Homo sapiens: one gene and its partner. The protein of the gene in region 2 purifies or fractionates together with the protein of the main gene of each other region. This does not show direct contact. Each region holds a gene or a part of one and is shown on either strand. Other genes may lie near its edges.

What was found.
Region 1: the proteins of KDM4D (region 2) and GPATCH11 purify together in Homo sapiens (affinity purification with mass spectrometry; one large-scale study listed by BioGRID and IntAct). This does not show direct contact.

Annotation. Positions count from the first base shown.
Region 1 is NC_000002.12:37,090,982-37,094,813, reverse strand, and holds part of GPATCH11 (G patch domain-containing protein 11), read right to left. Parts: intron 2,899-3,832; coding exon 2,778-2,898; intron 2,674-2,777; coding exon of another isoform or gene 2,650-2,673; coding exon 2,559-2,649; intron 733-2,558; coding exon 619-732; intron 163-618; exon of another isoform or gene 54-162; intron 1-53.
Region 2 is NC_000011.10:94,980,119-94,983,950, reverse strand, and holds part of KDM4D (lysine-specific demethylase 4D), read right to left. Parts: intron 1-3,832. UniProt on the Homo sapiens protein: Histone demethylase that specifically demethylates 'Lys-9' of histone H3, thereby playing a central role in histone code. Does not demethylate histone H3 'Lys-4', H3 'Lys-27', H3 'Lys-36' nor H4 'Lys-20'.

The DNA of each region.
Region 1 (3,832 bases), on a different chromosome or scaffold from region 2:
TGCCCCACACCTGGCTAATTTTTGTATTTTTAGTAGAGACTAAAATACACTACCATGTTGGCCAGGCTGGTCTTAAACTCCTGACCTCAAGTGATCCACCAGTTTTGGTCTCCCAAAGTGTTTGGATTACAGGTGTGAGCCACCATGCCCGGCCTCCATTTTCTTTTGATTGTGTTTTTTTGTTGTTTATAAGTAGGAGAAAAAAGTACACATTAGAATGACTTGTAGAAGTTTTGCAGGAAATAAGGTATAAATTAAAATAATTTACATTTGTTGCTAATTCATCATCCAAACTGAAGCTGAGATGAGAGGACAAATGGAAGCTAAAGGGAAAAATTATATGTAAGTTTTGATTTGGGGTTAGTAAAGTAATCCTGCAATGCAGTACCTCTCAACCAGGGGTTATTTTTCCCCTCGGGGACATTTAGCAATGTCTGGAGAGGGTTTTGGTTGTCATAAGCAAAAGTGCAACTGGTATCTGGTGGGCAGGGGCCAGAGATGCTGCTAAACATCTTGCAATGCACAGGACAGCTCTCCACAACAACGGATTACCACAACTCAAAGTGCTAATGTTGCCAAGGCTGAGACACCCTATGAAGGAAATGGTGCAAAGCATACGCTTAAATCTTCACTCTTATATTCATCTTCATCCTGTTCTTTTTCTTCTTCATCTTCTTCAGTCTCCTCTTCAAGCCTCAACCAGTACCATGCTTCCCTGGGAACCTGAATATTCTGAAAATGCAGAAGTAGTCTCAATTAAACATACTAAACATAAGAGCATGACAAATATGTTCATGTCAACATGAATTCATTCTTTCAATACGTATTCACTGAGTGTGGCTTTAAGAGTAAAAACACTGGCCGGGCACGGTGGCTCACGCCTGCAATCCCAGCACTTTGGGAGGGAGAGGTGGGTGGATCACGAGGTCAAGAGATCAAGATCATCCTGACCAACATGGTGAAACCCCATCTCTACTAAAAATACAAAAATTAGCTGGGCGTGGTAGTGCATGCCTGTCGTCCCAGCTACTCAGGAGGCCGAGGCAGGAGAATTGCTTGAACCCAGGAGGTGGAGGTTGCAGTGAGCCAAAATCACGCCACTGTACTCTAGCCTGGTGACAGAGTGAGACTCCATCTCAAAAAAAAAGTGAAAACATTGTACCATGAACTATGGGGATGCAAAGTCCAATTCTTTAGAATTGTGCAGTTGTCTTTAAGTTCCTTCTGACAGTCTAGCAGGAAAGATAGGCTATGGGTACAAAATAATACATATATGCTACAAAATCATAAGTGCCATGAAATACATTCAAAGTAAAGTAATATGTAAGAACAGGAAAGTGAGAGATTGCTTCCAGTAATCTATATATAAGGGAAATTTTACAAAGCTTTTTGAGACTTCAAATGAAGTCATTTTATTTTCAGAGTACTTGAACCACTAAGATAAAAGCAAAGACAGAATTTATTTACTTATTTATTTTTTTTGTAGAGCTGGGGACTTGCTATGTTGTCCAGGCTGGTCACAAACTCCTGGACTCAAGCAATCCTGCAGCCTCGTCCTCTCAAAGTGCTGAGATTACAGACATGAGCCACCATGCCCAGCCAGAGACAGAATTTTTTAAAAACTATTCAAATTTGAACTAGATAGCATTCCACCTTGATTTTATTTTTGAGACAGGGTCTCACTCTGTCACCCAGGCTGGAGTGCAGTGGCATGAACATAGCTCAATGCAACCTCAACCTTCTGGGCTCAAGTGATTCTCCCACTTCAGCCTCCTGAGTAGATAGGACTACAGGTGTGTGCCACCACATGCAGCTAATTTTAAGATGTTTTGTAGAGATGGAGTCTTGAAATGTTATCCAGGCTGGTCTCGAACTCCTGGGCTGAAATAATCATCCTGCCTTTGCCTCCCAAAGTGCTAGGATTACAGGATTGAGCCATCATGCCTGGCCCACTCTGATTTTAATAGTTAGACATATATTAGATACTGAATAGGAACTGAAAATAGGCTATTCTTGTTAATCAAATATTATAAAGAACAGAATTTCTGCACATAATAGTCATAACTGATATTCAAATAAGCAGAGAACAATTAAATGTAAAATTTTATTTAACCCTTTTTGTTTTACTATAGTTAGTATAAAACTATAAAACTATAGTTACTATAAAACCCTGGGTTTTATAGTAACCCAGACAACTCAGGTTACTATAGTAAATAATAAGCCATTTTTATATCAATTGTCACAGATCAGAAGTGCACATTACATGAAAGCTTTAATGAGTAGATAAACCGGGCTTGGAGTTCTTAGTTTTATATATATATATAATATATATATTATATATATAAATACATAAAATATATATAATATATAAGACATATGTAAAAAATATATAAATATATATGATACATATAAATATATGTAATACATATATAAACATATAATACATATATAAATATATATAATACATATATAAAATATATATATATATAATAAATAAACGGGAAATCACAGGGGGTGCCAAAACACTTTACTAAACTGAAAGCTGGTAAAAGGCTTACTTTCTGGACATCCAGTTGTTGACAGGCTCGCTGGCTTCTTCTGAGATCTCCTTCTAGCTTCATTTCATCTTGCTTATTTTTAAGTCGCATTCTAATTGAAAGAAAAAATTGTAAACTAAAGGTCTACGTTATCTTTAACCATTTTATATGCCCAAGTACCAGAGAACATACCACAATAAAGAGGAAATAGAACCAAAACCAGCTCAAAAATAGTTTTACCGAAACTGTTCTGCAGCTTTTTCTTCAGCTTGGTTTTTCATGTGAATCTTTTTTCTGTAGCTTTCCAATTTTTCCTCTGCTTTCCGTTTTAATGATGCCTCATGACCAATGCCACTTTTCCCTATTCAAACAGAAAATTCTGATGAGAAACATCCTGACTTTGTGCTTCAAAACAAGACGATTTAACTATGTACAAATTAAATGCAATTCTCATTTGAGTACTATCACTCACAAATCATTTGAGTACACTAATAGTAGAAAACACTAGGGTTTTTTTTAAGCCCAAAACATAATCTGATTTTTACAAAGATTGTTAATCTCATCTTATAGTAATATTATAAACAATTTTTCAAATCAGAAAAACAGTATTAGCTGTTATAGTTTTATTTAAATATGAATAAAATATATCTTTTTCTCTTGAATTCATCCAAGTATTAAGCAAAACATTTGGTAGATAAATCTGTCTCAGAACACTTTTATTTTATTTTATTTTTATAGGGACAGGCTGGTATGTAGTGGCACAATCATGGCTCACTGTAACCTCGAACTTGTGGGCTCCAGGAATCGTCCCGCCTCAGCCTCCTGAATAGCAAGGACTACAGGTGCGTGCCACTACACCCGGTTAATTTTTTAAATTTTTTGCAGAGATGAGGTCTTGCTATGTTGCCCAGGCTGGTCTCAAATTCCTGGCTGCTTTTTTTTTTTTTTCCTTGAGATGGAATTTCACTCTTGTTGCCCAGGCTGGAGTGCAATGGCGCAATCTTAGCTCACTGCAATCTCTGCCTCCTGGGTTCAAGCGATTCTCCTGCCTCAGCCTCCCAAGTAGCTGGGATTACAGGCATGCACCACCATGCCCGGCTAATTCTGTATTTTTAGTAGAGATGGGGTTTCTCCATGTTGGTCAGGCTGGTCTTGAACTCCCAACCTCAGGTGATCTGCCTGCCTCGGCCACCCAAAGTGCTGGGATTACAGGTGTGAGCCACCACGCCCGGCCAACTCTTGGCTTTAAGCAATCCTTCTGCATCGGCCTCCCAGAGCAAAACAGTTTTAAGACA
Region 2 (3,832 bases):
TTGAATTATCATTTCTAAATGATAAAGAAACAACATTTTAATTTTACTAGGCAATGTCAAATTGCTCTACCTAGTGGCTATCCTAATAAACCTATGTACTAATAGGAGTTTCTGTTTCTCCACACCTCCAGGTGCATTTGATAATGTCAACTTTTCAGTTGTTGGCAATTTGGTAAAATGATTTATCTCCTTTTATTTTATTATTGTAGTTGTTGTTGTTGTTGTTATTATTGTGTGACTTGTTTACTGGTGAAGTCAAGTAATTTTTCACTGATTTATTTCTTTTGTGGGTTTCGGTTTTCTGAATTACCAGTTATACCTTTTGCCGATTTTTTCCAGTTAAATTGCTTTCTTTTTCTAGTGATTTTTAAAAGTTCTTTAAATGTTTGGGATAATTTTATGTCTATTGTATTGTTGCAAATAACTTATCTCAGCACACCACCTCCATTTACTGTTTATGTTTTTTTGATATTTGAAAAAATTAAATGTAGTCAAATTTATTGATCTTTTCCATTATGATTTGTGCCTTTGTGTACTATTTAAGTAATCCATGTATTCTTTGGGGGTCAAAAAGATCATATTTTCTTGTCATTGTTTTCTTTGCTTTTCACTTTTATTTGTTTTGCCTATTTAGAATACTGTGTGTTATTGTAAGAAACAGAACTTTTTTTTTTTTTTAAGAAATCCAGTTGTTTGCCACCATTTTCCCCATTCAGTTGGAATCCTTTTCTCACATATGCTAAGTTACAATGTAAGGATAGATGTCTTTCTAAACTCTTCATCTGGTCCATTTATTTATTTGTACATTTCTATGCCAATGTTAGATTGTTTTAATTACTAAAGCTTTATACTTAGGATAATTGGTAAGGCAAGTCTCCATGTACTTATTCAACTTTTTTCAAAATTATCTTGGGTATATTTATAGAGTAAAACTTCAGTATTCATTTTAGAATAAATCTGTCAGGTTCTGTCAAATACTGTTAATTTAAATTGGGAATGCATTGAAATTAAAGGAAAATTAGAGGTGTATTTTCATAGCTCCTGCATTGATCATTCCCACCAATTAACTGGTATATTTATACATTTATTCAGATCTTGTTGCATGTATATCAATGAAGCTTCAGATTTGCATCAAAAAGATAATGAATCTGTTTTCTTAGATAAAACCTTAGGAACTTTATAATTTTTTGAGTGTACTGTACATGGAAATTTTTTTCTATTAAGTTTTCTTATTATTTATTGATCTTACATCCCTTTTCAAACCTTGTACCTCTTATTTCCTATTAGTACTATTAGCTTGGCCATTAATTCTAGAATTTTCCACGTAGATAATATTTTCTAGGAAAAAATCATAAAAATTATATCTCTTCTTTTTTTAATAGTCATGTCTCTTTTTTTTTTTTTTTTAGAAATAGGGAAGTCTTAAGTAACTAGATATGATCTCTAGCAAAATGCTGAATGTTGACTGAGTTGGTAGAAATTCTATACTCATCTAAGATTTTAATAAGAGTGGCTCTAAACTTTGACATTAATTATATCCTATCATTTACCATCTAAGCTGAGACACTTTTGAGAATAACAGAGACCCAAGGATGACAGGCATAAACCTGGACCCTACTGATCAAGCAGTTAAAAAGCAATAGTCATATAAAATTCAGTTCTGCCGAGCTGCAGAATATATATTTTTCCAAGTTCTATAAAAAATTTACAAAATTAACCATAACTGTGGCCATAAAACAAGCTTTAACAAATGTCAAACGGTTGAGAACAGTCAGAATATGTTATTTGACCACAAACAATGAAGTTAGTAATATCAAAATGATAACTAAAAAATTCCCAAATTTATAAAATAAAAAGTATATTTCTAAATAAATTTTTAATGAGAAAATAAAAAATGGAAATTAGAAAATATTTTGAACTAAATGAAAATACTACATTTCAAATCTTGTAGGATGCAGGTAAATAGCATTAAAAGGGAAATTTATAAATTTAAATAAATATTTAAGAAAAGGAAAAAGGTTAAAAAAACTAAATGAGCTAAGCACCCATCTGAGGAAGTCAGAAAAAAGTAACAGCAAAGAAAGAAAAAGAAGAGAAATAATAAGAGACCAGAAACTGATGAAATAAAAAGCCAATATAAAATATGATGAACAAAACCAAAAGTTGGGCTTTTTTAAAAAAGTCTAATAAAATTTAAAAGACTGGTGAAAATGAGGAAGAACAAAAATAGAAGGCACAAATAACCAATATCAACAAAGATAAAGAAGTCATCACTACAGATGCTGCAGACATAAAAGAGACAACAAAGAAGTATAAACAACTTTATGCCAATACAGTTTAACATTTCAATGAAGTAAATACATTTTTAGAAAAATATAACAGTGATACTGACAAAAGAATAAACAGAACAATAAATATATCCATAACCCTCAAGGACACTGACGCAGTAGGTAAAACTCTTCCCAGAAAATATACTCGAGGCCCAGATGGCTACACCAAGAAATTTTAGTCAACATTCAAGAAAGATATTCCAATCTTAGATAAATTTTCTCAGAGAATAGAAAAAGAAAGAATACTTCCCAATTCATTTTATGGTACGAATCCCCAACAAGGATACTATGAGAAAAGAAAATAGGTCAATCTCGCTTATGAACATAGATGGAAAAATCCTAACTGAAATCTGAGCAAATTGATTCCAGCAATATATACATCATGACCTAGATGGGTTTATTCCAGTAATGAAAGGATGAAACTTTAAAAAATAATAGTGTAATAGCACATATTAACAAACTAAAGAGAATCTCATTAGATGCAGAGAAAGTATTTGATAAAATTCATCAATTCATCATTCTTTCAGCAAATTAAAAATAGTAGGCAAAAATCTTAATGAAGTGCATCTATCCAAAACCTTCAGCCAAATCATACTTAATAATGAAAGTTATACGTTTTCCCTTGCAGATCAGGAAAAAGACAAGGATGCTTGCTATCAGCATTTTTATTCAACATTATCTTGGAAGTCCTAACCAACATAAGAAGGCAAGGAAAAAAGAAGGAAAACAGAAAAGGAAGAAACAAAGCTGTCACTATTGGCAGATGACATGATTGTACATGTGACAAAATCTGAAAGATCTCTGAATAGACCCTTTGAATTAATAAGAGAGCTTAGCAAGTTCTCTGAATTTAAAATAGCTACATATAAAAATCAATGATATTTCTACACACCAGCAACAATGAGACAACCAAAATTTAAGGAAGACGCCATTTATAATAGCATTAAGCATTAAGTAACAAGACTAATGCTAACAAAAATTTGCAAAATTTCTATGAAGACAACAATATGAATGTACTTAGAGAAGCATATTAATATAAACTAAAGACATCCTAAACAAATGGAAAAATATAACCTGTTAATAGATTTGAAGACTTAGTATTGTAAAAATGTCATTACATTTTTAAGAATGTTTTCTTAATCTGTAAATTAAATATTATCACAATTAAAATTCCAAAAGTATTTTTGTGGAACTTGACAATTGGCTCCTGAATTTTATAGTAAAGTCCAAAGGGCCAAGAATAGCAAAGCCACTCTTATAAAAGTGGGACAAGGTAAGAATATCTGCTCCATCGGATTTCAAGGCCCCTTCTCCAGCATGCCACGCACAAAAATGAATTTCATGTGCAGCTATGAAACCTTTAGAAGATAATACCTGAGAATATCATTATGACTTCCCAAGTAGGGACATTCATAATCAAGAAATACCATGCATTAAGCAAAAAGGAAAAGAATGATAATTGAACCACTCTAAAAGTGGTTCCAAAAAGAGAAGCAGAGAAG